2 linked regions of the Homo sapiens genome follow. The protein of the gene in region 2 interacts with the protein of the main gene of each other region in a pairwise test. Each region holds a gene or a part of one and is shown on either strand. Other genes may lie near its edges. The genes, in order: FSD2 and CORO1A.

Region 1 (14,627 bases), on a different chromosome or scaffold from region 2:
TCAAGCGATTCTCCTGCCTCAGCCTCCCAAGTAGCTGGAACTACAGGCACCTGTCACCACGCCCGGCTAATTTTTGTATTTTTAGTAGAGGCGGAGTCTCGCCATGTTGGCCAGGCTGGGCTCAAACTCCTGACCTCAGCTGATCCGCCCACCTCGGCCTCCCAAGGGGCTGGGACTACAGGCGTGAGCCACCACGCCCGGCCCCTACCCATCCTTTAAAGGGATACTCCGAATGTCTATGAACACTCAGATAAAACTGAACTAAATTTGAATCCACTTGTACTACATTTATTTGTCAACTCTTCGTTTGTCTACTTCTTGAGAACTTTAACAGCTGTACTGGGTTGGTTAGTGTCGCCCCCAAAATTCATGTCCTTCCTGGAACCTCAAAATGTGACCTTATTTGGAAAGAGTGTCATTGCAGATGTGATTAGTCATGATCAGGTCATACTGGAGTAAGGTGAGCCTTTTACCTAACAGGACTGGTGTCCTTATAAAACACACAGAGACAGAGACACACAGGGAGTATACCATTTGATAACAGAGGAAGAGAATGGAGTAATGCAGCTACAAGCGAAAGTACACCAATGATTGCTGGCTCCCACTAGAAGCTAGGAAGAGGCAGGAAGGATTCTATCCAGAGTCTCAGAAGAAGCAAGACCCCACTGACATCTTGATTTCTGACTTCCAGACTCCAGAAAGCGAGAAAATATATCTGTTGTTTTAAGCTATCCAGTGTGAGGTACTTGGTTATGGCAGCTTCAGAAAACTAATACAACAGCAATTTCAATTTCTACTTTATCTTCCTAGCCCCAAGAGTACCATGTGGCTATTAGAGTACAGGATTATGTAGGCTCTCAAATCCCTTCCATGGTAAAAGAATGATTGGGCTTCCAGCAGTGGCCAAGAATTGCCAGACGCTTATGAGCGCCTGCTGCGAGATGCTTGTACAGTGAATGCTCAATAAAGTGGTGGCCATTATAACCGCAAGCAATGAGACTACATAAATAGTAAGAAACGAAATAGAACAAGGGGCAGCGGGAGCAAAGAGAGAAACAAGGGCAGCTGAGGAAGGAAGCCTCAATTCCCCGGAGGACATCCGCGGGCGGAGGAAATGTGAATCTGCAAGTCGTTCTCCCAGACCCCGCTTAACGATTCCCGGCCCTTTCTCCACTCCCTACAGCCCTCGGACCCAGCAACAACCGGATCCTGTGCAGGTCTTCCCTGAGTCCAACGCGATTCTCCTGGATAACGTCAACCAGCTGAGCGATTCTGAGCCTGCGCGAAGCTCCTCGGCGCTTCCAGTAATGTCACGCTGGTGCGTGGGGCGGGACTTCCTCTCACGCGCAGGAAACGAGAAGGGCTTTTCCGCCGGAAAGAGAGTGGATTTACTAGGAAGGTGGGACGTTGGAGGGGTGGCCGCATGGAGTGAGTACTGTCTCTGGCCACCGAGCAGAGCCAGTGACAGCAGCGTCCTGGTAGGCAGGCAGGCGTATCAGGTTTCAGAGGATGCGGCTGGGAACGGGAGTAGAGGTGAGGGGTCGTTGCATCTGTCGCGGTGTGTATCTTTTGGGGGTTCAGCGCCACCAGCGACTTGGGCCTCATTCATCGCGCTTACATTTCTCCACCTCATTTGAAGAACGAGCTTCGTAGCCCACGGAGCTGAGGTTAGTATAAATGTGGAAGGGAGAAGTATGCACTCACCAGACTAAAGTTTACAGTTTTCACATAGGTTGTGCTGTTCTGTGTCCCATAAGGGCCTGCGAGAACCCAGACATTCTGAATCGGTGACGCCTGCTGGAGGCAGCAACACCTGTTGCATTAATTTTAGAACACACACACACGGAGTTGGTAATTCTTAAGCTTCCTGAATCTGCTGGCGGTCATTTGGTGTCAGAAGCAGAGCAAAGCCATCTTGGTCATCTCCCTCCTTTTAGCTTAAACCGAAGCATGATGGGGGAGATAGGCCGAAAGTTATACAGCTTGTTAATAACAGAGCCGAGAGTGAAAGCGCGATTTCTTCATTTTTAGCCCGGAATTATTTGTTGTACACCATACTGTTTCTTTGCATTGCTAGACAATTCGTCTTTTTTTACGAGGTTGACGGGGAGTTGCAAGGAGGAGTGAAAAGGGTGGTAATGTACATCTACATACAGTATAAATCCATGAAAGGCAAAATCCGTGTGTGTTAGGAGTTAGAACTGTGTCAGTCATCTACATCTTCCATAGTTTGTAGATGGAGATGAGTCTGTCACGTCGCTCTGTCATTTCCCTTTTAGCAACAGATGTGTAGTAACAATATGTGAAGAAGGAACTTTCATTGCCTGTTACATACATTTACACAGAGCGGCCTGGGGTTCACTGAGCAAGCTATGTGCTCACCCTAGAAAACTGATTCTGTAGAGTGCACTGCAGTCAAACCTCAGCTGTTTTAAGTAATCTTACATTTGGTGCTTGTGTGGCTTAAGTGTCTTGTGCATTATTGCAGTCATCTCTCTCATGTTATGAAATGGAAATGTGTTGTAGGAAAGTGGCAAGCCTGTGAAGAAAGTAAGTGAGCCTGAGGCCCAGAAAACCATACATTAGCAAATACTGAAAAACTGTTCACATCACATAGGGGGTATCTGAAGTACTGAGGAGCTCATTTAACCGGATGTTCATTGTGGGGAAGCCATGAATAGCCTCCCTCTCCTGGGTTCAAGCGATTTTCCTGCCTCAGCCTCCCGAGTAGCTGTGATTACAGGTCCATGCCACCATGCTCGGCTAATTTTTGTATTTTTAGTAGAGACAGGGGTCTCACCATGTTGGCCAGGCTGATCTCGAACTCCTGACCTCAGGTGATCCTCCCACCTTGGCCTCCCAAAGTGCTGGGATTACAGGTGTGAGCCACCGTGCCTGGCTCCTATATAAACAATTTTCAAACTTGTTGGTCTCAAGAGCCACTTAACAGTTATTGAAGACTCCAAAGAGCTTTTGTTCATATGAAAATAGTTTTGACTTCACTAACCCCCAGAAGGGCTTTCAGAAGCCCCCACAGAAACCAACTTTTAAGAACTACTTTATGCAGATGTTTCAAAGACATTTTAGATTATGTAGAGGAATGATTGCTGTTGTGATTGTGACATAAGCAGAAGTATCAACTTAAAAATGCAACAACAAGCACAGTAGCTTGTATTTCCAGTAGCTGTATAATTCCAGGCACAGAGAACACAAACAGATGTCCATTTTTAATTCTTTTCTTGTTTTTTTTGAGACAGGACCTCACTGTCACCCAGGCTGGAGTGCAGTGGTGCAATCACAGCTCACTGGCAGCCTCGACCTCCTGAGCTCAAGAGCTCCTCCACCTCAGCCTCCTGAGTAGCTGGGGCCACAGGTGTGTGCTACCACCCTGGCTAATTAAAAAAAAAAATGTTTTGTAGAGACAGTGTCTCTCTGTGTTGCTCAGACTGGTCTCAAACTCCTGAGCTCAAGCCATCCTCCCACCTTGGCCTCCTGAAGTGTTGGAATTACAGGCGTCAGCCACTGTGCCTGGCCTGTGATATTTTTCTATGCTTGGAAAGTTTATTAATCAGCTAGGATACTTCTCTACAAAAATACACATATATAACTTGAGATTTAAACTTTTCTCAGCCAGCTGTGGTGGTTCACACCTGTAATCTCAGCACTTTGGGAGGACAAGGTGGGTGGATCACTTGCGCTCAGGAGTTTGAGACCAGCCTGGGGCAACAGGGCAAAACCCCATCTCTACAAAACTGCACCCAGCTATTTTGTATTATTTTTATCTCGTTGCTTTTTTTTTTTTTCTTTTTCTTTCTTTCTTTTTTTTTTTTAGTGGTTTCAGGCAGTGGTTCAGACCAGCTGCTAGAGAATCATGGGCTAAGAAGAGAAGACTACCAATTTAGTAGATTTGGACATGGACAAGCCACAGGCAGTTTCTCTTCTCACTCTCTTGGCCAGTCATCTCTTGCTCACCTTCCCCTGCCAGTAGCCAGTAGCATGTGACAGCCTCTATATTCCATCTCCCTTTTCTCCCTCTTCCAGAACTAAGATGAGTTTTCAATGGATAACTGTACAGAAACATACCCACTGCTGAGTTTATAATAAATAGGTAAATGGTGTTTAAAATGCCTTCTGTAGGAATCCTTGGTAGATAGTTATATGTGGTTGTTTTTTGGGAAGTTGGCTTGAGGTTCTTTGAAGGGCTGGGAACGTGTATTTCTTTTGCGTGTGCCTGTGTGTGTCAAAATTTTATATGTTCATCAGTGCTCTACACGTTCAGAGAAACGTTTCCAATAACGAACCATAGAATGATCCCTGGAGCATAGGATCCCACTGTTTGAAAATTCTAGCCATCGATCACTTTATAAGAAAAGGATGAAATTTCAAACAAGGAGTTTGTTTATCTGATTTCCACCCTACAGATAATATATAAATTTGGCCAAAGTTGTTTGGGGAAGAGGGGCTGTTGTTAGGTACTGAGCTATAATACTTTGTTGCTTTGTATCACTTTTAAAAGTGACTTTTAAAGATACTTGACATTTGAAAAGGAATCACCTTTGATCTTTCTAAGTCCCTAATTTGACATTACCTTTATAGCATATAATTTATTCCATAAAGTCTTAGATCCTGAAACTAGTGGAAAGCCAAATACTCATGTTGTGCTATAAATATAGGATTGACAGTTAAGCTTACTCAGTAGTCAAGGGGGCGGCTTTCACTCACCAGCCTCCAGGGCATATGAACCAAATTTATGATTCAGAACATTTAAAATATACATTTTGAAGATCTTTGGGCTCTCTTAAGTATAGTCTAACTATAATAAATATTAAACATGTCAAAGGTCTCTTGCAGTGTTGGGAAGAGCATTCTAAACCACATACATCTTTCCCATCCCCAGATTGTTCTGTGTCCCCTCCCACTCTTCCCAGATTAGAAGTCACCATGGAGCACTATTAGTAATGGGACTCTGTATCAGATCTTTAAGGTGTATTGGGACAGAAGAAAGGTTGATATTTTGGGGTTGTTTGTTTTTTTTGAGACGGAGTTTTCACTCTTGTTGCCCAGGCTGGAGTGCTATGGCGTGATCTTGGCTCACTACAATCTCCGCCTCCCTGGTTCAAGCAATTCTCCTGCCTCAGCCTCCTGAGTAGCTGGGATTACATGCGCCCACCACCATGCCCGGCTAATTTTTGTATTTTTAGTAGAGACGGGGTTTCATCATGTTGGCTAGGCTGGTCTCGAACTCCTGACCTCAGGTGATCTGCCTGTCTTGGCCTCCCAAAATGTTGGGATTACAGGTGTGAGCCACCATGCCCAGCAGGTTCATATTTTTAATGTTTCCTTCTACTCCCCAAGCACACACAAATTTGAAAGCTGCTTTGCTTTCTAATAAAGAGGCTTTTCCTTTGATTTTGGAAGATAATTTGATGTCTCTTTTCTCTTTGCAGGTATATGAGCTCCCTGAAAGCACAAAGCAGTTATTTCCATCTTCAGATCATTCAGAGATTATGAAGGCACAAACCCTGCCTTCAATTTGCTTATAGTCAAGTGGAGCAGACACAAGTCAATGATTGCAGTATAGCCACTGAAGTAATCTAAAAGAGGTGAGTGTGGCACTTAACCTCTCCTGGGAGGGGGAGGAATAAGGCAGTGTTTCCAAGAGGTGATTTTGGAGCTATACAGGCATTAGGTAGACAAGGAAGGGGAGGTCCATTCTGGGTGCCTAGGACTCTGTGGCTGATTTATAAATCGTAAATGGTACAAAAAACAGTGTTGAGTATCTTTTACCTTTCTCCAGAGTACTGTTCTTACTTTTGGATAGTGCTTCTTGTTTTTTCCTTCCCTCTCCCTGTCCCTGTCACCTTTAAATTAAATGAATGTTTGGAAGGAAGTAGGAGGGTAAGAATCTTTCTGGGTGGCAGAATAATAGATGGGTCTACCAAGAGCGATGTATATACCCAGTAAAGCCATCTCTAAAACTGTGTTTCTGCATTGTTACAGTGCATAGTTGGGAAATCTCAGTTTTGTTGGCTGTGTACTTTCCCAGTGAATGGATTATATTCCTTTCTGCGAGCCAGTCTGTTTGAATTTAAGGGCATCTCTTAAATTCCTTTCAAGCAAGAGACCTAACATTTATACTTAGGAATGAGAGTAGTAGAGACAGCAAGATTAGAATCCAAGTTCATATACCAAAACATTTTTATTTGCTATGTCTGAGTGACTACATGTTGTTTGAATCAACTGCAGGCTAATTTGTAACATTTCAAATAAATGATAGTTTAATTCCTCCAGGATTTGAGTAAGGTGAAAATAGAGCTAAAAACCATGATTCTGTCACAGTCTGGGAAAATGAAAAAGCAATCAATTAGTGAGTTGGGCTTAATTTTTTTTTTTTTTTTTTCTGGAACTGGTGATAGCAGAAAACAAGCAGTAAAGTAGTCAGACATGATATACTTGACAAGAACCACCACCTGTTCAGTAGCAACTCTAAAATAAGTACTAACTTAGGGGCAGTTGTTGTGCCCAGGTCATAGTCATACTCCTTCCAGGAGACTTCCTGATGACAGAAAAGATGCTGACCAGCTGGGGTCTTCTTTCCAAATAACTTTTCTCTTGCATTTAGATTAATTAACCATTGGTTACAGTGAAACAAGCATATGTACAGAGTTAATCTCCTATAGCTTGAAGTTATACATGATCTTTATTTGAGTATCTTGACTTGTTAAAGGACAGTGTTTTAAAAGCTGGATTTGGTTATGTTCTTCTGGAGACTAAGAAAATAGAGTCCTTGAAATCAAGCTGACTCTGCTTTTAGCCTCCTAAATGAAAAGGTAGATAGAACAGGTCTTGTTTGCAAAATAAATTCAAGACCTACTTATCTACCAACAGCAATTACACGCTTTCCATTGTCTTCCTATAGAAAATAGGAGTAGTACACTTATAGATGAGAAAACTGGAGAAAGACATAGTGAACATGTGAGAATCTTGCTCTACTAATTGATAGGAAGGTGACTAGAAATTGGCGAAGTTTTCTTGGTAAGTTGAGGAGAGGACTTTTCTTATAGTGCAGTCTGGTAGCTGAACCGCCTTGCATCAAGACCAATGTAGTCTTATTTACAGAATGCCACATCACAGTGAATTGTGCTGTGGACAGCTTCCAGTGTGTGAGTTGTGGAAGATGATGATTTTAACAGATTTTGGAGGATGAGAAGTATTAAGAAGAAGGCCCCACTGTCCATGCATTTGCTCTGCTTTTTACTTTTGACCAAGTATACACTTCAGAAATATCTTATTGGATGTATACAAAGTGATTGTGTGTCATTTGAACCAGCAGGAAGTAATTTATTAAACACACTTTTCTAAATAAAAGTCATTTAATTTTATCAGAAATCAGTGTCATTTTAGATTGCAAGTCTCAAACCAACTTTCCAATTCTGACTTGTAAGGGTGCCTTAAATCCTGAATACTGTACTCTGTATTACTAAACCCATGTTAGTTTACGCCAAGATTCTGTGGTGGTTTTACATATTCTTTTTCCCCTTTGTTAAGGTGGGGAGGCCACAGCTTATGTGAATGACTTTCTCAGGAGTTATAAAGTGATACAGGTAAAGCTAAGAAAAGAACAGATTTTGATAACTTTTGTTTTAACTGTCCAGTGTTAGGGATTGTGGCTACAGTGGTCTAATTTTTAAAAACTCTTTTTTTTGCTTTGTTTTTTAACAGACTTATCAGCAGGTTGCAGGTGAACATGGCCTTGAGGTAAATCTGTCCCTTGCTGAATACAGTTTCAGTAGATTGTTTATAGTAGTTTCAGGAATTGAGATTTTTTACAAAAATACAAAAGTTTTGCTTGGTTCTGTTCTAGATGTTTTCTTCTAAATAAATGAGAAAGATGTTTCAACAAAGGCTCTTTATGCTGAATAATTGTGATGCTTGAAGTTGCTAATCTGCTTTAAGTGGATTTTAAATGTCAGGCAATTCTAGACAGTTTTTTCTTGGTCAAATAAAAATTTAATTAAAACTTTATACGTGTTGAGTTTTTAATCCATTTATCCGTGTTCATACTAACGTGTAGTATTCCATAAAGCCTATTAGAACCCTGAATTCAAACTTGCCTTCTCTGTGATATCCTGTTTCTTACTTGGTAGTTTCTATTTCAGTAGCTGAGAACTTTTTTTTTTTTTTTTTTTGAGATGGAGTCTTGATCTGTGAGCCATCTCGGCTCACTGCAAGCTCCACCTCCCGGGTTCACGCCATTCTCCTGCCTCAGCCTCCCGAGTAGCTGGGACTACAGGCGCCCGCCACCAGTCCCGGCTAATTTTTTTGTATTTTTAGTAGAGACGGGGTTTCACCGTATTAGCCAGGATGGTCTCGATCTCCTGACCTTGTGATCCATCCACCTTGGCCCCCCAAAGTGCTGGGATTACAGGCGTGAGCCACCGCGCCCGGCCGAGAACATTTTTAAATATACATGATATGTATCTTTTAATTGTTTATAACTGGAACTATTTCTGTGCTTACATCTGCTGTCCCTTGTTTCAGAGTAGACAGTCCAGCTTGGCAGGATAGGTGTGTGTGTGTATAACGAGTTATTAAATTGTCAGTGTGAATTGTTAATTCAGGAATCTGAGCTGCCATTTATACGAGTAGGCAGAGTTTAGTAGGAGATGAGAGTCTTTCAGTTTGTCAGACTTTGCAGGTGCTGGAAAACATCAGAGGTTTTTTGTTTGTTTGTTTGTTTGTTTTTGAGACAGAGTTGCGCTCTTGTTGCCAAGGCTGGAGTGCAGTGGCACAATCTCGGCTCACTGCAGCCTCTGCCCCCGGGTTCAAGCAATTCTCCTGCCTCAGCCTCCTGAGTAGCTGGGATTACAGGCGCCCACCACCATGCCCGGCTAATTTTTTGTATTTTTAGTAGAGACGGGGTTTCGCCAGAAAAAAGAAAAGTGGACTTTTTTTTTTTAAACACAAAACCTTAAATGATGAGATTAGGGCATATCTGGGTTTAGAGGCATCTGTGGGACATGATACTGAATTGTAATTGCTTCACAAATGGAATTATTCTGCAGCTTCACTCACAAGCTTTGAAAATGCTGTGTGTGCAGAGCTTAAGTGGCAACTGGAAACTTGAACAGGAGAACCAGGAATGTAGCTGATGGAGTTGGGCATTGAGCTCACAGAATGGCCTGGGGGCAGTGAGGCAGGATGCCTGAAAGCTGCCTAGCTAGAGATCAGTCTTCCTTCCCGTGCTCAGCTTTGCCCTTTGGTGGGCTGTTAATTTCTTTTAAAAAATTGTTGTGCATTTGCTAATATGCCACAGATGCCCTTCTGTTCTTTCACGCTGCCTCCATTCTAGGTTTTTTCCCATTTCTTGGCCATAGGTCCTTTGCTGTAGTTTTGAAAGAGCCCTGCCATCCTTCACATGGAGAGCAGTAAGAGGCCAAAGAGCAGTGGCTGAAGAAGATACTAATTTATTCAACAAATACTTGGTGACAGCTGTTATGTGTTAGCCCTTGGTGATCTAGCAATGAACAAAACAGGCACTGTCCCTCCCTTCATGGAATTAGGCATTATAGAGGTAATTTCAAAATTAGAGAGTGGTGCATACTGTGTAGGAGTGGAACAGGGAATACCCTGTATGCAGAGTACACAGTGGAAGGGACCTCACCACAGTGCTGCTCACTATTGGGAAAACGAGGGTAGAAGACATTGAGAAGGGCACACAGCTTCCCTGGTTCTCTACAGACAGCCTCTCGCCTTCTCAAGTGTATTCTTGGCTGACTCATGAAATGCATGGGTGTACTGGTGCTGCTGGAGCCATTAAGACTACCCTCGTCCTCTCCCAAGCTCTCTAGGTCTTGGAAACTCAAGATATTTTGCATATACACGAATATAGTTTGACAGCTTCAAAGACTTTTGAGTTCGTTTAGTCTGAGCCTTTATTTTACAGCTGGGCCTGGTAATGACTATCCTAGCAGCACACAGGTAGCAGCACACAGGACTAGAATCCAGGTTGGGTGAAATGAGCGCTAGCACACCAGTCAGATAATAGCATGAGCCATAAATTGTGCTGGGCACATGGTGCTTAAGTGCCAGGTTCAGCCAGCTAAGGCGTGAGCAGCTGCGAGAGGGGTAGGCATGGAAGACAGGAAACTGGACATCAGAATGTTCTAATAGAAAGTGACATGTTTTGGCATTGAAATGCCATTATGTACCTTTAGACACCCAGGCTTTTCCAAAGAAAAACAGGGATGCACAAATTCGTGAAGCTGACAACTAAATGTATATAGATGCTGAGAAAGGTCCACATTGAAAAATGACAACTTTGAATGTTCATAGTCTAATAGAATGCCAATCTTCTTTGGTGGAACTGTTATTCTTATATCTGGAGTTGTTCTGTTGTGCAGAAATTCATACTTATGCCTGAAAATTAAATTTGACATAATAAAGTTTCAGTAATTCTATAGATTGACTATTTATAGAACATTTCATACTAATTTTATTCATAGTCCTATGATTTTGCTATTTTCTAGTATTAAATGACTACCAAGGTGACAAGCCATTTCTAAAACTATACTCTCTAAACTATCTCTTTTCTAAAATTTGTCCTAAGAAACATTTTCTTTTTTTTTTTTAGATGGAGTCTTGCTCTGTCACCCAGGCTGGAGTGCAGTGGTGCAATCTCGGCTCACTGCAACCTCAGCCTCCTGGGTTCAAGCAATTCTCCCACCTTAGCCTCCTGAGTAGCTGGGATTACAGGCGTGCACCACCAAGCCCGGCTAATTTTTGTATTTTTAGTAGAGACAGGGTTTCACTGTGTTGCCCAGGCTGGTCTCGAACTCCTGAGCTCAGGCAGTCCACTTGCCTTGGCCTCCCAAAGTGCTGGGATTACAAGTGTGAGCCACTGCTTCTGGCCGAAACATTTTTCAAACATCATTTTTTCTCTAGCAACCTCTTAACCTAAGAAATTTACCTATAGCATCCTGAACTCTCTTTCATCTAAACTAGCATAGGAATAGAACATGTTTTTAAAATTTGGATTAGACATTTGAAACAGGGAACCTTGTGATTTTCCATGTGATAAAATGGGCTTCTTGGTATAAGCTCTTCTATGCACAGTTACTCCAGTTCTTAAACTTTCATATTGAGTGGGGAGCCAGTGGGCCTGTTACCAATCAATACTATATCACTATCCATGCTCTACATCCTGTGTACTTTGAAAAATGGCAGAAATGAAAACCTGTCACAGGAATTTCCTAACCCTGCTACCTACAGATATTTGAAGAGCTCTTTGTGTCAACAGGCTAGTCTAGGCTACTGGGATAAACACTTGGAATATGATCTAAACGTGTCAGAGGAAGCCTGCCTGTCTCTAGCCCATTTCACCTTAATTTAACTAAGCAGCTGCCAGAAGCTATGAGTCGTTTCTTCTACTTTCTATGCTACCACCAATAAAGTCTAATACTATGAGCCAAAAATGCAAGTCTGCTAGGAGACCTTATCCTAGGATACCTTACCTTCATTCTCCACTTGTAACGTGTGTGCACGTGTGTGCGTGCACGCACACACACACACACACACACCCTACATCTGTAAGAAACTGGCTTGGCTCTAGCACTTGGACTGTAGCTTTTGCCCTTCTTTTGTCATTCTTCTGTTTCCACCCCTCTTCTATTGTGTCTTCTTACCCCCTTTATTCTTCCCTCTACACGTGGACTTCTAGGCTTTCTTTATGCTCCCTTAGTTTTACTCTGCCCCTTGTTCTTGCCTTTCTAAAGAAGAGACTTTGCTCTTTAGTCTTACTTCAGGCAGAATCCCCAAATAAAGTATCTGCCTCAGTGTATAGTAATTCTTGGATTCCCCAAACTGGGTGTGAGGTTTAGTAGATTTCATTAGAGTCTTCATCTGTTATCGGAGGGGAAGTTGGTTTTCCCACTTATGCTTGGGCATGACACATAATGTGTAAATAACCATGATAGAGGATCATGGGCAGAGAGCATTGGATGAACATTAATAGGATTCATCAAATCAAGGAGGGTCAGAGGCCCCATTTTACAAGGTGTGATAGGAAAGCAGTGTGGGGTCTTGTTTTTCAGTTTTTGAGGTGAAGGAAGGTTGTAACCATGGCCTTCTAAGTCTGAAAGTGTATTCATTGGCCTGGGCTTCGTGAGACTTTTTTTCCCACTATATGGAACTACTCCATGTGTAAAGACAGAGTGCCCAGCAGCAGGAGCAAACCAGAATTAGCCATAACTACTAAGCCTCTTGCCCACATTTACTTAAAAAGATGGAACTGGGGCTTCAAAGCAAACTGTATTGGCTTAATACTAAAGGTGAACAGAAATGAAAAATCTATCACTTAAGTGGTTAGGAATGAAATCTTTGGAACCAGACTGCTTGAGTTTGAATCCAAGTTCCAAATCCATGTCGTTTGGATTATCTAATTGCTGTGAGGTGTGGTCTTCTTATTTTTATTCTTTTATTTTATTTTATTTTTTTATTTTATTATTTTTTTTTTTTTAGAGACGGGGTCTTGCTATGTTGCCCAAGCTGGCTTTGAAGTCCAGGGCTCAAACAATACTCCTACCTCACTCTCCTGAGTAGCTGGGACTACAGGTGCACACCACTGCACCCAGCATTCTGATTTTTCAAATGAGATAACACAATTGTGAGAAGTAAATGAGATAATGCATGTAAGAGTACTTGGCACATAATTCTCCATAAATTTTAGCTATTTTTAGTTGAAGAAAAGCTGCTCTTTCTCCTCTTACTTGGACTTTAGGGAAAGTGGCTGGCAGCAACTCCTGAAATATCTTAAAATATTTGTAAAATATAACGTGTGTCTTAATTATTGCTAGTGAAAAGGTCTTGCTGTAATCTTTCAAAAGCAAATTTTAATTGTGAGTATCCAGATTTTACTTTACCTTGATGATGCAAATGTGTGCCTCATGCACCAGGAGAGGCAATTTGCTCCCAGATCCTCCTGTTTACGGACATCTGCAAAGGCCACACCAACTCTGTAGTCCAAATGCTCATCCACCTCCACCTCCCAGTAATGGTGCCCTCGGACTGGAATTAGATTTCCCATGACAGCAACACACCTGGTTTTAGAAAGTGGAAGCATGTGTGATCTGGGGTGCCCCAAGCCTGGCTGTGCAGGTCAGTGATGCCAGTTGCTGGGATCAGTCAGTCGGTGGTCTACGAACGTGGTGGTAGGTGCTTCTGGACACTTAACTTGTAAAGTACCCTTAGCTCTCAAAGCTCAGTGGGCTGATACTGAAGATTTGAGATTATGTTACTGCTTGGTAATGGGAGAGGAGGAGGCACTAAACCAACAGAACAAGTTTTGTTTGCTCTTTAAAATGGTTGGGGCTTTCATAGAAAAAGGTTTGGTTCACTTGTTCATAAAAAAAGAAAAGGGTTGAAAATACACAACACAGCACGGTTAAGGGAACCATAAGCTTGAAGTTCACCACCATTGCTTATGGTACTAAATGAACATGGAAGGCCTTTGAGGTAGCCATCATGTTAGGGATGACTCCTGGTGGAATTCAGAGGCCAGCCCAAGGAGAACAAGATAGCAGATTCCTCACAGATCATTAAAATCTACCTCCACTGTTGCACTGGGAACAATTATACTGACAAAGATTAGAGTTATGTTTTGTTCTACATCAGCAAAGTATCAACAGAGGAAGGTTTTCAGTGAAAATCAAATTATACTGGTATCTCCAAAGTGAATATTCTACCTTCTTCAGGAGACTCCTACATTAACCAAAATATATATAGACCTCAACATCCCTAGAAAGATTTGTTCAGTTTAAAATTTTCTCTCTACTTTCAAAACCCCAAGTTCTTACTGCTCAAGCAAAGCTTTGGGAAGGAGGTTGCATGTTGGTTAACTTCTACCTCGGTTACCTCACCTATAAAATGAGGCCATCTCTGCTTCAAGCTCCAGACTCACATTTCCACTTGTTGTTTCAAATTCAGAATGTCCCAAATGGAAAAAGTCATATTCCCACCCCTCTTATCTACCAAAGTTTGGGGTGTAGTGGGGAGGGGTACATACTTCTCACATCTCCATTTTGGTTAATAGAGTCATTATCTACCCGGTAACCCCCTGGTGGAAAACTAAGATGGGAATAATGTAGTGGCTACAAGCTCACCTTCTAGTTTGATTCCTGCTTCAACCCTTAATAGCATTATACTCTTGGGCAAGTTACTTCTCTGTGTTTTAAGTATTCTCATCCGTCAACTGGGATTGGTAATAGTACAGGGCTGTTAGGATGATTGCATGAGATGAAATACATTTAGCACTTGGTAAGCACTCTATAAATATGGCAATATGATAGTCCCTGACTCATCTTCCTCTCTGTTGCCCTTTAAACAGGTGAGCACCTAGCCTTGTTGGTTTTATGTGCTCAACAGCAGTTGACTCCCCTGGCTCCTCTCACCCATGCTACTGCGTAGTCAAGCCCTCCATAGTCTCCTCTCTGGTCTCTGTTTCCCATCTGCCTTTGCCTTTCCCTCTCCCTCCCCAGCTCACGTTCTACCATGCACTGGAATCTTTCTGAAATGTAATCTGATCTTGTTCCCCTGCTTTAAATCCTCCAATAATTCTCACCACATAGAGG
Region 2 (15,292 bases):
TATATATAATATTTATATATTAAAATATAATATATATAATATTTATATATTAAAATATATTATATATAATATATTTATATATTAAAATATATAATATATATAATATATTTATATATTAAAATATATATGATGTATTTATACATTTAAAAAATATATATATATATATATATATATATTTTTTTTTTTTTTTGAGACGAAGTCTCACTCCTGTCCCCCAGGCTGGAGTACAATGGCATGATCTCGGCTCACTGCAACCTTTGCCTCCCGGATTCAAGCAATTCTCTTGCCTCAGCCTCCTGAGTAGCTGAGATTACAGGCGCCTGCCACCATGCCCAGCTAATTTTTGTATTTTTAGTAGAGATGGGGTTTCACCATGTTGGCCAGGCTGGTCTCGAACTTCTGACCTCAGGTGATTCACCCACCTCGGCCTCCTAAAGTGCTGGGATTACAGGCGTGAGCTGCCACACCCGGCCTATTTATATTTTTTAGAGACAGTGTCTTGCTCTGTCACCCAGGCTGCAGTGCAGTGGTGCAATGGCTCATTGCAGCCTCGACCTCCTGGGCTCAAGGGATCCTCCTGCCTCAGCCTCCTGAGTAGCTGGAACTATAGGTGCCCACCACCATGCCTGGCTAATTTTTTATTTTATTTTTCGTAGAGACGGTATCTCGCCGTGTTGCTCAGGCAGGTCTCAAACTCCTGGGCTCAAATGATCCTGCCGCCTCAGCCTCCCACAGTGCTGGGATTATAGACGTGAGTCCCCATGCCCAGCCTCCCTCGTTATTTTTATCTTTGGACCTGCAGTTTAAAAGATGCCTACCCTGTAAGTGATGGTTGGTTCATTTCCTCACAAGCAACAGTGCCAGCAGAGTCACGTGCAACGTGATGTTTTGGTTGACTAGGAAAGGCAGATTTTTGGTAAATTTGGGAATTATTGAGGTTCTAAGCTAGGGCCTTAAATAGTTCAGCTGTGTCAGCTCTGAGAAGGAGCTCGGAAACGGAGAGCAGCCTCCTGGCCCACATCAGCATGGCTGGTTTCTACCCACGAAGGCCCTGTTCCTGTGATGTAGTAAGTCAGGGGGCATCCCACATCCCCTGCCATGGGTCAGTCCCCTCAGCGCGGTGGAGGGGAAGCTCTAGGGCTGGTTGGTTCAGCAAACTGCGTGTCTAGGGGACCAGTCATCAGAGTCTGGGAGGTACCAGAAAATAAAGCCATTTTATTATGATTTTTTTCTCTGCCATGTGGCTGGGAATGGGAGGTGAGTGGATGGGTGTGAATGGCTGACCCTGCTGGAGGCCCTGCGGGGCTCTACTTGGCCTGGACTGTCTCCTCCAGCCTGTCCAAGCGCTTCTGGAGCTCCTGCACCGTGGCCTGGAGCTTCCGCATCTCCTCCTCCAGCCGAGACACGGCATCCTGGGGACCCGGTGCTGCATTAGGCCCAGCTCCTCCCTGGCTCCCCTTACCCCAGCCTCTGCTGAGCCCCATCCCTAGAGCCCTGGCCTTGGGCCCTTTAGTCGCTCAGCTGGTTGCTGCCTGGAGACCTGCAGGCCTATCAATCTGAAACCTGTGTTCTGAGGCCTCAGGATTACCATTCCCGGACCCACAAAGATTCCCAATGTTGTGAGTTTGAGGTGCCCCAAACACCAGCCCCACCCCACCCTCCCAGTTTTATTCCCTGGCTTCCCAGCCCTCTCACCGAGCTGGGAGTGCCACTGGCCTCTGGTGCTGCCCTCCTGCGCCCGGTGTCCAGGCCCCGGTTGACCCTCAGCTCCCGGCTCTTTGGGGGTACGTAGCCATCCTTGAGGGAGATGAGGAGGGGCCCAGCATCCCGACCCCCCAGCCACTCCTCAGCCGTGAGGGCAGGGTCGGGCCCTGCGGTGGGTGGGTACAGGTCCTCCTGGAACAGGTCCGACTGTGGGCAAGGCCAGGGATAGTGAGGAAAGCGCTTATGCCAGGACACCCCCCACAAGACCGCAAAGTCAGTGCCCAGCCTGGAGCCCAGGGTGGGGCGGGGGAGCATCACCTTTCGAGGCACTGTCATGGCAATGGGCTCACACCTCCGCTCGTGCAGCTTGTAGAACCTGTGGGAAGGGGAAGGTGAGCGGGGCCCACAGTCTGGTTGGGTGGGCTTGGGACTGCCCACTGCCCAAGGAGCATGCTGCGGTCAGGGCCGGGGGTCAGTCACCTGGCGATCTCACACTTGTTCACCTCCAGGCCACGTTTGGGCATGTAGCCCATGCCCCGCTGGGACTCCTTGGAACTGAACATGGAGAGATAGTGCAGGAAAGGGGCCTCGGAAGTGATCTCAAAGTACCGGATTGAGCTGTCACCCTGTAGGTGGCAGGTGTGGAGGGAGGGTCAATACCAGCGGATGCCCACTGCCCTGGCCCTCTCCAGGCCCATCCTGCCCACCTCCCACCCCCACCCCGCCCGACGAGGCCACCTTGCCACAGAGGTAGACGATGTTGGTGTCAGGGTCAAAGAAGGGCAGCAGGACACCGCTGCTGGTGTCCAGCTCCTGCAGGGACAGCGGCTCCTCCAGGTGCTTCTGTAGACACAGGTGAGAGGTAACATCCCAGGCCCTGGGATGGTGGTCTTCCCTGGGCAGTGACCTGTGAGGGCCCTCCCGACCAACCAGTGGGAACAACCATCTCACGCCTGGGTAAACTGAGGCCCATGGCCATCCTGCCAGGTGAGTGGCAGAGCAGGGACGAAACCTCCAGTCTTGGTTCCCAGCCTGGGGGCCCTCGGCTTCCTGCCCCAGCACTCACTGTGTCCCACAGCGCCACCTGCCGCTCACTCATGCGGCTGAAGCCCGTGGTCAGGATCTTCCCCTCCGACACGAACACTGCACGCACGGGCCGGGTCCCCTCGTGGGGACGGTCCTTCTCCTGCAAGGAAAGGGAGGTGGTAGGTCAGGCACCCGTACATACCCTACGGGGCCAGTCCCAGGTGGAGGCGAGGGAGGGCAGCATCCAAGGGCCTGGCTGATGGTGGATAAGAAGGATAAAGGCTGTAGGGTCAAAGGTCAGGGTAGATGGCGACTCACAGCTACGACAGTGCCTTTGCGGGGCTCGATGATGCGCACGCGCTTGTCACGGCAGGAGGTACAAATGAGGCCTCCATCTCGGCTCCAGTCCACACTGTAGATCGTGTCTGGGTGCACCTCTGGGCCCAGTGTCAGCATGGCCGCCCCAGTGCCCACGTCCCACACCATGATCACGTTGTCACAACCTGCACGTTCCCCACAGTGTCAGAAGCCATGAGCCTCCTGCCCTCATCCACTGCAGGCCACGAGCCACCCCCAAGCCCCTCCTCCCGCAGCACCTGCACTGAGCAGCACGTTCTGGGCTGTGGTGTGCCAGGCCACAATGCCCACACGCTTGGTGTGGCCCTCCAGGGTGACGACGGGCTCCCGCAGGGGCAGCATCAGGCCCCCATCTGGGATCTCCCACACCTGCAGAGGAGGGGCCAGTGAGTCTTCAGGACTCCAAATGTCAGATCCCATCCTAGAGCCCCTCTCCCAGCCCCTGGGTCCCCACCACCACTCACCATGACTGTGCAGTCCTCGGAGCCACTGGCAATGACGTTGTCATTGTGCGGGCACCAGGCGATGTCTAGCACAGGGGCTGTGTGGCCACAGACCGTGGGCGCATTCTTGTCCACACGTCCAGTCTAAAGGCACAGCAGGGCCTTGGAGGTGCTTTTGCCTCCCAAACCCAATCCAACCTCCCCACACCTCCTTCAGAGAGGCCCAGAGAGGAAAGCTGTGGTGTCCCTGGGAGCTGGACCAGGGCCTGGGGTGGGGACGGGGGCGGGTTGTTCTTCTCTTGTTCCAGTCCCAAAATGGCCTGGGCAAACCCCAGGAGGGCTGGCCACGCATGGCAGAGGTTGGGGGCCGTGCAAGACCCTGGCAGAGTTCCCGCCGGTCTCTGTCTCAGTCTGTCTCTGCCCTTAGGGTTGGCACCCCCACCCCAGCTTCCCCGAGTGAGGCTTCCATGGGCACAACTGGCCCTGGAGCCAGGACAGGTGTATGGGGGCTGGGGGGGTGGAGGCAGCTCCCCAGAGAGCGAGTGTGAGTGGTGGGGCTGCAGGGGTGGGTCCTCCCAAAAGGAGAGGGGCCAGGGAGCCTGTCCCAACTGGCCCCAGGCAGGAGCAGAGGTTTGGAAATGGCTTCTTCCGGGGACAGCTGCTTCAGCAGGGCTTCCTGTGTGACAGCCATGTGGGGCGCGGGCCCAGCTCTCACCCCGACAACCACTTCCTCTTCTCTTTGCTTCCATCAGCCCTTTTAAGGTAACAACTTGGGGCCCATCTCCCCTTCCTGTCTTACCCCCCAAAGAGCACAGGAGTGTGCTGGGGGTGCGGGGCAGCAGCCAGCCAGCGGAGGGGGCAGCAGGCTCCAGGGGAGGGCAGGGCTGCGGGTGGGGGAGAGCACCTCTTGCATCATCCCTGCCTGCGAGCTGGGGGACAGAGTTGCTAGGTCCTCAGACAGGCCCAGAGCCAGAGTCCCTCCCAACCCTGAGAACGCTGCCAGGGCCCCCAGACCCCATCCCAACCCCCTCTGTGTTTCCATGGGGAGAAAGCCCCAGGCTGAGGCTCAGGAGGGCTGATCATGGGTCTGCAGGACTGTCTGTAGTCCTGGTCACTGGTGTGACCCATCTTGTGTTGGCTCCTTCTGAGCGTCAGTTTCCACACAGCCACAGCACAGAGGAGCTGGAGGAAGTGTAAGGCTCATGGGGCCCAGCTCAGTTTTCCAGATGGCAACACAGGCCCTGGAAGGCCTGGTGACCGTCACCTAATCAGGACCTGCACAGAGCCATGGGTCCGGTGGAGGAGCTGCTCCCCCCAGGGCCCCAGGGGCTCACCTTGCCCAGGGGCAGCACCAGGAAGGCCCCTCCCCCGCTGGCCTCACAGATCAGGGCCACAAACTTAGGGTTGACAGCACAGAAGCCACTGTCCCAGGTGGTCTGTGAGACGCGCACATCTTCATAGCACTGGTCGGCCTTGGCCGGCTGTCCAAACACGTGGCGGAACTTGCTGGAGCGGACCACCTGCCGGCTCATTCTGGGGGCACACAGCATAAGAGCATTTCTCCCTTCAGGTCAACTCTGATCTTCCAGTGGTCCCCACCTCCCCCAGGACACCCCTCAGTCTGGCTTTTAAGGTCCCAGCATCATCTCCAGGGGCTCCCTATTCTTCCCTCTGTGGCTGATGCCTGCTTGCCTTCCCCAGCCTCTCCTTCCCTCTAACCTGCAAGCCCCCTTCTCCCTGGCCCCAGGCCACTCTGAGCCACCCTCTCAATCTGTACCCTCAGCCTCTGCAACAGAGCCTGGCGTGGTGTTGCCCCACTGCATGTTTGTTGACTGACTGGCTGATGGATGCAGAGCCCGTCCTTCCTAATGGTTCAGACTCAGGCGTCATCAGCCCAGATGGCTCCGAGGGTGGGTTCTCTCTTAGTTACCGTGTCCAGAGCCCACCTCCCTCACACCCACACAGCGCTTCCTAAAGGCAGGGACAGGAGCTGGCCTCCCTCGCCTGCTGGCATGGGGCTGGACACAGGAGGAAGTGGCGTGGGGGCTGCCTGAGGGGAGTGAGGCGGCAGGATAGCTTCCCCAGCAGGTCTCTGGCTCAGGTCCAGGTATCTCCTCCTCCCCATACCTCTGCCTCTCGCCTCCGCTCAGAAAAGCAGGTGCCCTTAAGAGCCATCTCCACCCCCATGTAAACTGCACACAGGAAGGGAGAGGCCACTCCGACTGCTCTGAGGTCCAGGTAGGATGGTTTCCCCCAGTGTCTGGGTGGGGAGCAAGGAACTCCAGGGGCGACCTTGTGCCACCGCATCACCTTCCTGCTCAGGGAAGGGGCCTGTGCTGCCGCTTGGAGGGTGCCATGCCCAGAGCCTCTGCCCCTAGCCTCAGCCTCGCCTACTCACTGGGGGCTCCAGCACCCCCGGCCACCCCAGGACTCCCGAAGAGGCTGCTAGGTCGGCCTGCCCAAAGAGCGGTGAGGAGCGTATGTGAAGAGCCCCAGTCTTGAGGAGCAGCCTGTATCTGGAGAGAGGGGAGCCCCGGACCAGAGGTGGGGGACAGGAAGCCATCGCCCCACCCTGCCTCCTCCCCCACCACAGGTACCAGGCCCGGAAACCACGGAAAGGGGAACTTGGTCTTTTCTTGTTTTGCTCTCAACCCCTTCCTGTCTCCAAGCCCAGGGCAGCTGCCCCGCTCACCCCACCCTGCCCTCGTCCCCACCCTCCCCGAGACTCAATTCCGTGGGGAGTCGGGCCCTCGACACTGTGCTGACCCCCGGCCACCCACCTCCATCTTGGCCGCGGTGGTCCCTAGCCCTCGCCTCCGCAGAGCGCTCTGGGGCCCCGGCGGCCCCCACTCCAAGCAGCGTCCCCCCACGGGCTGCTGCGCCCGCTACCTGGCCCCGGCGCTGGCTGGGTCGCGGTGACAGCCGCGCGCCCCCGCAGCCCGCGGCTCCCACGCGCGCGCCGCCCCACAGGTGGCCCTCGCCCCGGCCCACCCGCGCCTCCCAGGCCCAGCCTCACCTGCTGCCGAGAGAGGACAGTGATCCCCCAAAAGCCGGAGGTGGAGGAGGAGGAGGAAGAGGAGGAAGGAGCTGGAGGAGCCGGGGACTCGCCCGCTGAAGATGCTCTTGTCAAGACAATGAATGAGAAGCAGCCGTGCGCCCGCCTCCGGGGTGGCCGCGCCCCTTGGGGCGGAGCTCTTCCAGGCCCGCCCTGCGCTCCCGGGCTCCCGCTGCGGCCGCCTCTCTCCCCGGCCCCTGCCCGTGCACCACGTTGGTCCCCAACCATAGCGCAGGCTGCCATCCCGGCTCCGGGAAGCGAATCTAAACTTCTTTTTAAAATGTCAAAACGCAAGAGCACCCCATTGCTTCTTTCCTCCCTGCGTCCGCCCCCAGCCTCCTCGCCAGCCTTTCCCTGGCAGGCACGAAAGCGCCCCAGGCCCGCCCGCCAGGCCTCGGTGCCCGCCCCGGCCCGGCTGCGCCGCCCCTTCCTCCCGGCCCCGCAGACGCGAGCGCAGGGGGCGCGGGGGGCGCGGGGGGCGCGAGGGGCGCGGGGGGCGCGGGCGAGGAGGAGCCCCGAGCGCGCTCCTGGACCCCCGGGACCTGGCTCTTGCCTGGCTCTGAGATCTAAGCATGGGTGGCCCCGGGAGTCGCTTCTCCTCCCTGGATCTCCTGGCTTCATCGGGAACACCCCTGCCCTCCTGCTGAAATAATCCGGCATCACGGGCACCTACTTCGTGCCAGGGGCTACAGGGTCGAGCAAGGCAGGCAAGCCAGGCAGGTTTCCGCCCCTGAAGAGCCCAGCCTGGGGGAAGGAGGAGGAGCCCACGGCCGCTCCAAGCCCTGGCTTTGGCGAAGGCTCGAGGGCAAGGAGGAATAGTTCCCACCCTTGGATTCAGAGAGGCTTCTGGAGGCAGCAACAGCGGGCAGGAAAGGCCTGCTCTAGAGTCAGACTATGTCATGAGTGCGACCGCAGCCTGTCACCTGCTGAGTGAGGTGTGGCCGCTACTTAGCCTTTCTCAGCCTCGGTTTCTCCCTCTGTAACAGTCATACCTGCCACGTAAGAGGTATGGGGATGATTACCTAAAATAACCCAAGGAAGTCAGTAAGGACCTCATCTAGAAAGTGGCGGGTGCTTAATAAACGTTAGCTCTCAGCCATGCGTAGTGACTCACGCCTGTAATCCCAGCACTTTGGGAGGCCAAGGCTGGCGGATCACCTGAGGTCAGGAGTTCGAGACCAGCCTGGCCAACATGGTAAAACCGCATCTCTACTAAAAATACAAAAATTAGCGTGGTGTAGTGATGCACCCCTGTAATCCCAGCTACTGAGGAGGCTAAGGCATGAGAATAGCTTGAACCCTGGAGGCAGAGGCTGCAGTGAGCCAAGATTGAGCCACTGTTATCACCCAGTCTTCTCTGGGTGAAAGAGCAAGACCGTCTCATTTTAAAAAAAGTTAGCTCTCATCATTCTTGTTTAAAAAGTATCTGGGCTGGGCCTGAAAGGATTAGGAAGAGCCAACAGGCAAGGCTAGAGGGGTGACCTGTAGGCTGAGGGACAGCCCTGTCGTGTGGAGAAGTTCAAGGAACAGCAAGGGACGGGTTCAAGTCCCACCTCTGCCACTGACTGGCTGTGCGATCTTGGCCAAGAGGGCTAATCTCTCTGAACCTCATTTTGTCATTGGTAAATGGGGAATTAATAAGATTTGAACTGCCCACCTCACAAAGTTATGAGGCTCTGGCCGGGCGCAGTGCCTCACGCCTGTAATCCCAGCACTTTGGGAGGCCAAGGCGGGCAGATCACGAGGTCAGGAGATGGAGACCATCCTGGCTAACATGGTGAAACCCCCTCTCTACTAAAAATACAAAAAATTAGCCAGGCATGGTGGCAGGCGCCTGTAGTCCCAGCTACTTGGGAGGCTGAGGCAGGAGAATGGTGTGAACCCAGGAGGCGGAGGTTGCAGTGAGCCGAGATCGTGGCACTACACTCCAGCCTGGGTGACAGAGCGAGACTCCATCTCAAAAAAAAAAAAAAAAAAAAATTACCCGGGCATGGTGGTGCATGCTTGTAATCCCAACTACTCTGGAGGCTGAGGCAGGAGAATTGCTTGAACCTGGGAGGCGGAGGTTGCAGTGAGCTGAGATGGCACTATTGCACTCCAGCCTGGGCAACAAGAGTGAAACTCCGTCTCAAAAAAAAAAAAATTAGCTGGGCATGGTGGTGTGCGCCTGTAGTCCCAGCTACTCGGGAGGCTGAGGCAGAAGAATCGCCTGAACCCAGGAGGCAGAGGTTGCAGTGAGCCAAGACTGTGCCATTGCACTCCAGCCTGGGCAACAGAGTAAGACTCCATCTCAACAACAACAAAAAAGTTACTAGGCTCAAATGAGACAATAAATCTGTAAATCTTTTATAGATTATTCAATTGTAAAAACCTTAGGGCTGTACTGTACTCAAAGGCCTGCGACTGGACGGGACTAGACCGAGATAAGGTGGGTACTCTGATGTGCCGTCTCCCACAGAAGTGACAGGAATAATAACTGGCTTTTATTGAGTGCCTACTATGTGCTGGGCACTGTTCTAGACACTATACTATGTTCATGTAATCCTCATAGCACCCCTGGGTAGCAAATACTATCTCCATTTTACAGATGCAGAAACTGAAGCACACACTGCCTTCAGCTCTGGAGGGCCTCATGTCCACCCACAGGACGAGGGCATTGGTGAAGGACCTGAAAACTAGGCTCCTGAAGGTGGCGAGCCTGACGGCCCTGGAGAGGGCAAGGTGCAGGCAGACAGTGCTGCTTTCAGAGGCCAAGTGGGCTGCAGCAGGGGAAGGGGTGGGCAGCCTTGGGGCTGCCACAAAGGTCAGGGGCAAGGCTGGTGGGTGGAGGTTCTGGGAAGCAGATGTCCATGCAGCATAAGAATTAGTTACAGCAGTGAGTGGGGAAGGCCCTGGCAAGGCTCTCCATGTTTGAGAGGGGGACAACCTTTTCAAAGGGTGTCCTTATAAGGGATGTCAGAGGGCATTTGCCCAGGAGCGGCGAGAATCACTTGAGCCTAGGAGTTTGAGACCAGTGTGGGCAGCATAGCAAGACCCCATCTCTTAAAAAAAAAAAAAATGAAATTAGCCAGCTGTGGTGGCATGTGCCTGTGTTCTCAGCTGCTTAGGAGGCTGAAGTGGGAGGTTCGCTTGAGCCCAGGAGTTCCAGGCTAACAGTGAGCTATGATTGCACCACTGCACTCCAGCCTGGGTGACAGAGGGAGACCCAGTTTCAATTAAAAGAAAAAAAAGGGGGACCTTTGCCTCTCTTGTTCCTGCTGGTTTAGCTCTTACCATTGCCTCTCTCTTTTTTTTTTTTTTTTTTTTTTTGAGACAGGGTCTCCCTCTGGCTGGGGTGCAATGGCACGATCACAGCTCACTGCAGCCTCAACCTCCCACGCTCAAGCGATCCTCCCATCCATCCTCAGAGCCTCCCGAGTACCTGGGACCAGAGGCACATGCCCAACACACCTAGCTAATTTTTTAAATTGTTGGTAGAGACGGGATCTCACTATGTGGCCTAGGTGGGTCTCGACCTCCTGGGCTCAAGCAATCCTCCTGCCTCAGCCTCCCAAAGTGGTGCAATTACAGGCATGAGCCACCGTGCCTGGTCCCGTCGCCTCTTTATTGGATTTTCTTTTGGGGAACCAACCTCTCCTCACAGGCACTCCATGAGGTTCAGGAGGGGACCTGGCGTATTCACATGGCCTGTGCTTCCCAACCAAAGCAACCTGTTTTCATTGGCTCAGGGATGGGCACTTGATTCATCTTGTGCCCAAGACTCACCTTGGAGCTGCTGTGAAAAAGATGCCCTCTCTCCACTGGGAGTTAGGAAGCTGATAGGATGTAAGCCCAGCACTGCTGGTGATATCTTGTTGGTATGCAGGAAAAGCTGGTCAGAGCAAGGTGCAGTGGCTCACGCCTGTAATCCCAGCACTTTGGGAGGCCGAGGCAGGCAGATCACCTGAGGCCAGGAGTTTGAGACCAGCCTGGCCAACATGGCAAAACCTGTCTCCACTAAAAATATAAAAAGTAGCCAGGCATGGTGGTGTGCACCTGTAGTCTCAGTTGCTTGGGAAGCTGAGGCAGGAGAATAGTTTGAACTGAGGAGGTGGGAGTTTTGGTAACCCGAGATCACGCCAGCCTGGACGACAGAGCAAGACTCTGTCTCAAAAAAAAAAAAACAAAAAACAAAAACAAAAAAAACAGCAAAAAGCTGGCTAGGATGGGTCTACACAGAGGCCTGAAGAGGCCAGATATGAAGAGACATATTCTTGAGATCATTTGAGTGTCTGGATCAAGCTGTGCCTGAAACCCTTAACTTTCCTGTTGTATAAGGCAATGCACTTCTTTTTCACGTAAGCCAAGAAGTATGAGTTGGATTCCTGGCACTTGCAGCTGAAAAAGTTCTGATTACACCTACCCTGGAGGGAGACAGGACCAGAGGCCCTTCCAAGGAGCCAGATACCTACAGTAGAGGTAGACTGAAGTGTTGGAATCAAATCATTACTCCTCTTTTTATTTTTATTATTTATTTATTTTTTTTTTTTTTGAGACAGAGTCTCACTGTCACCCAGGCTTGAGTACAGTGGTACAATCTCTGCTCACTGTGACCTGCGCCTCCTAGGTTCAAGCGATTCTCCTGACTCAGCCTCCCGAGTAGCTGGGATTACGGTGCATGCCACCTTGCCTGGCAAATTTTTGTATTTTTAGTAGAGAGGGGGTTTCACCATGTTGGCCAGGCTGGTCTTGAACTTCTGACCTCAGGTGATCTACCCACCTGGGCCTCCCAAAGTGCTGGGATTACAAGCGTGAACCACCATGCCCGGCCAAAGTCCAATGTCTTTAGCAAGGTTCACAGAGCTTCCCTAGTCTGTCTTGCCCAAAGGAGGCTGTGGAGCATGGTGGGGTCAGGCACCCCTGATAACCTTGGTTTCAGCATCTCCTTACTGTCCCTGGCCAGGTGCGTTTTCCTCATCTAGGACAGGTGCACAGTGGCCCTCACTTTATAGAGGATGAGGACTAATGGAAACTAGCTATAAATGCTGGGCACAGTGCCAGGAACCAGGCTGGAGTGTGCTGGCAACTTTCCCTACCCCCTCCGCCTTCTCCATGGAGAAAGTGTGGCCCTAGAATGACACACGTAACATGCTGTCTTTGGGAAGTCACTTCCACTTGGAGTTTCTGCCCTTAGCATGGTAGCATGCTTTGTAAACATGTGAAAGGGACCCTTTTCTTATTTTTCTTATTTTTTATTTTTTATTTTTTTTGAGACAGAGTCTTACACTGTCGCCCAGGCTGGAGTGCAGTAACCCGACCTTGGCTCACTGCAACCTCCACCTCCCAGGTTCAAGCGATTCTCCTGCCTCAGGCTCCCAAGTAGCAGGGATTACAGGTGCCCGCCACCACGCCCGGCTAATTTTTTGAATTTTTTTTTTTTTTTTTTTTTTTTTTTTTTTGAGACAGCGTCTGGCTCTGTCGCCCAGGCTGGAGTGCAGTGGCGCGATCTCGGCTCACTGCAAGCTCCGCCTCCTGGGTTCACGCCATTCTCCTGCCTCAGCCTCTCAAGTAGCTGGGACTACAGGAGCCTGCCACCGCTCCCGGCTAATTTTTTGTATTTTTAGTAGAGACGGGGTTTCACTGTGTTAGCCAAGATGGTCTCGATCTCCTGACCTCATGATCCACCCGCCTCGGCCTCCCAAAGTGCTGGGATTACAGGCGTGAGCCACCACGCCCGGCCAAATTTTTTGAATTTTTAGTAGACATGGGATTTCACCATGTTGTCCAGGCTGGTCTCAAACTCCTGACCTCAGGCGATCTGCTCATCTTGGCCTACCAAAGTGCTGAAATTACAGGCGTGAGCCACCGTGCCCAGCTCTTTTTCTTATTTTTTATTTAATTTAATTAATTTATTTTTGAGACAGCGTCTCACTCTGTCGCCCAGGCTGGCGTGCAGTGGCACAATCACAGCTCACTGCAGCCTCCACCTCCCAGGCTCAAGTGAGCGATCCTCCCACCTCAGCCTCTCGAGTCACTGGGACTACAGGCAAGTGCCATAATACCCAGCTAATTTTTAAATTTTTTGTGGAGATGGGGGTTTTGCATTATTGCCCAGGTTGGTCTTGAACTCCTGAATGCAAGCAATTCTCCCGCTTCAGCTTTTCCCAAAGTGCTGGGATTATAGGCCTGAGCCACCTCACCCAGCCCTCTTTTAATTTTTTTAGAGACATGGTCTCACTGTGTTGCTTATTTTCTATCCTCTTCCTCACCCATCTGTCCATCCATCCACCCACCTACTTGTGTCCCAGGCAGGGTGCTTTGTGCTGGGGATTCAGAGGCTAATTAGCACACTCCTGCCATTAGAGAACAGCTGATTAAGAGAGGAGTGATGAGCGCTGGAGACCCAGGCCAGGCCAACAGTGCCCTGCGAACTAATTCCAGGCCTTTTTTTTTTTTTTTTTTTTTGAGACAGAGTTTTGCTCTTGTTGCTCAGGCTGGAGTGCAATGGCGCAATCACGGCTCACTGCAACTTCCACCTTCCAGGTTCAAGCGATTCTCCTTGCCTCAGCCTCCTGAGGAGCTGGGATTACAGGCATGCACCACCAAGCCTGGCTACTTCCATATTTTTTTAGTAGAGACGGGGTTTCACCATGTTGGTCAGGCTGGTTTGGGACTCCTGACCTCAGGTGATCCGCCCACCTCGGCCTCCCAAAGTGCTAATTGCAGGCCTTTTATTGGAACTTTCTGTTGGATGACTCACATTATAGGATAGAAGTCTAAGAAATGCTGGTAGTCATCCCACCTTCATCTGAAGCAAAACTGCCTGAGAACAGAACCAACCTAGAGGACAGTAGGGTCAAGAAAGGGAGAGAACAAGACAGACTCCCGGAGCCCGCCCTGGGTCCAGCCGCACTTGAAGCTAGATCCTTTCCATTATGTGAAGCAACAAATTCTCTCTTTTTTTTTTTCCTTATCAAAATTTGAACTAGGTTTCCTTCTTCTTCTTCTTCTTTTTTTTTTTTGAGACAGAGTCTCGCTCTGTTGCCCAGGCTGGAGTGCAGTGGTGCCATCTCAGCTCACTGCAAGCTCCACCTCCTGGGTTCACGCCATTCTCCTGCCTCAGCCTCCCAAGTAGCTGGGACTACAGGTGCTCGCCACCATACCCGGCTAATTTTTTTGTATTTTTAGTAGAGACGGGGTTTCACCCTGTTAGCCAGGATGGTCTTGATCTCCTGACCTCATGATCCGTCCGCCTCGGCCTCCCAAAATGCTGGGATTACAGGCGTGAGCCACTGCTCCCGGCCCTTCTTTCTTCTTTTTTAACTTTTGATGGTAATAAGGATTTATCTCTTATTATTATTATTATTATTATTTTTGAGATGGAGTTTCACTCTGTTGTTCAGGCAGGAGTGCAATGGCACAATCTTGGTTCACTCCAACCTCTGCCTCCCAGGTTGAGGCGACTCTCCTGCCTCAGCCTCCTGAGTAGCTGGGATTACAGATGTTCACCACCATGCCCAGCTAATTTGTTTCTATTTTTAGTGGAGATGGGGCTTCACCATGTTGGCCAGGCTGGTCTCAAACTCCTGACCTCAGGTGATCTGCCTGCCCTGGCCTCCCAAAATGCTAGGATTACAGGCGTGAGCCACTGCGCCCAGCCTATTTTATCTGTTTTCAAGAATTTGTTAACTTTATTTTTATTTTTTGAATCAGGGTCTCACTCTATCACCCAGGCTGGAGTGCAGTGGCTCGATTAGAGCTCACTGTGGACTCGACCTCCTAGGCTCAAGCAATCCTCTACCTTGGGCTCCTAAAGTGCCGGGACTACTGGCATGAGCCACCTCATGCAGCCAATTTTTTTTGAGACAGAGTCTCATTCTGTTGCCCAGTCTGGAGTGCAATGCTGCAATCTCAGCTTACTGCAACCTTCACCTCCTGGGTTCAAATGATTCTCCTGCCTCAGCCTCCTGAGTAGCTGGAATTACAGGCATGCACCACCACACCCAGCTAATTTTGTATCTGTAGTAGTGATGGGGTTTCACCATGTTGGCCAGGCTGGTCTCCAACTCCTGACCTCAAGTGATCCTCCTGCCTCAGGCTCCCAAAGTGCTGGGATTACAGGCATGTGCCACCATGCCCGGCCTGTAGACATTTTCAAATACAGAAAACGGGAATAATTGTATAATAAACTCTTTTGTACCCATCATCCAGCTTTGACAATGGTCAACATATATTGGCAATATTTGATTCAAATATGGCAATATTAGCAAACATTGATTCATTTCTTTTTTCACATTATTTTCTTAGAGTGTATTAAAACAGCCGGGCGCAGTGGCTCACGCCTGTAATCCCAGCACTTTGGGAGGCTGAGGCGGGCGGATCACAAGGTCAGGAGATCGAGACCGTCCTGGCTAACATGGTGAAACCCTGTTTCTACTAAAAATACAAAAAATTAGCCAGGCGAGGTGGTGGGCGCCTGTAGTCCCAGCTTCTCGGGAGGCTGAGGCAGGAGAATGGCGTGAACTCGGGAGGCAGAGCTTGCAGTGAGCTGAGATTGCGCCACTGCACTCCAGCCTGGGCGACAGATTGAGACTCCGTCTCAAAACAAAACAAAACAAAAAAAAACAGAATGTATTAAAACAAATCTCAGACATCATAGCATTTCAACTTAAATACTTCAGTATTAGCCAGGCACAGTGGCTCACACCTGTAATCCCAGCACTTTGGG

What was found.
Region 1: the proteins of CORO1A (region 2) and FSD2 interact in binary tests that used the Homo sapiens proteins (3 or more experiments, as listed by UniProt).

Annotation. Positions count from the first base shown.
Region 1 is NC_000015.10:82,749,182-82,763,808, forward strand, and holds the end of FSD2 (fibronectin type III and SPRY domain-containing protein 2), read right to left. Parts: intron 13,098-14,627; coding exon 12,921-13,097; intron 10,420-12,920; coding exon 10,167-10,419; 3' UTR 6,181-10,166; downstream 1-6,180.
Region 2 is NC_000016.10:30,174,980-30,190,271, reverse strand, and holds CORO1A (coronin-1A), read right to left. Parts: upstream 6,671-15,292; 5' UTR 6,547-6,670; exon of another isoform or gene 6,501-6,546; intron 6,124-6,500; exon of another isoform or gene 5,853-6,123; intron 5,769-5,852; exon of another isoform or gene 5,484-5,768; intron 5,064-5,483; 5' UTR 5,063-5,063; coding exon 4,865-5,062; intron 3,675-4,864; coding exon 3,552-3,674; intron 3,457-3,551; coding exon 3,327-3,456; intron 3,234-3,326; coding exon 3,049-3,233; intron 2,891-3,048; coding exon 2,771-2,890; intron 2,548-2,770; coding exon 2,443-2,547; intron 2,331-2,442; coding exon 2,185-2,330; intron 2,081-2,184; coding exon 2,023-2,080; intron 1,912-2,022; coding exon 1,696-1,911; intron 1,413-1,695; coding exon 1,308-1,412; 3' UTR 1,196-1,307; downstream 1-1,195. UniProt on the Homo sapiens protein: May be a crucial component of the cytoskeleton of highly motile cells, functioning both in the invagination of large pieces of plasma membrane, as well as in forming protrusions of the plasma membrane involved in cell locomotion.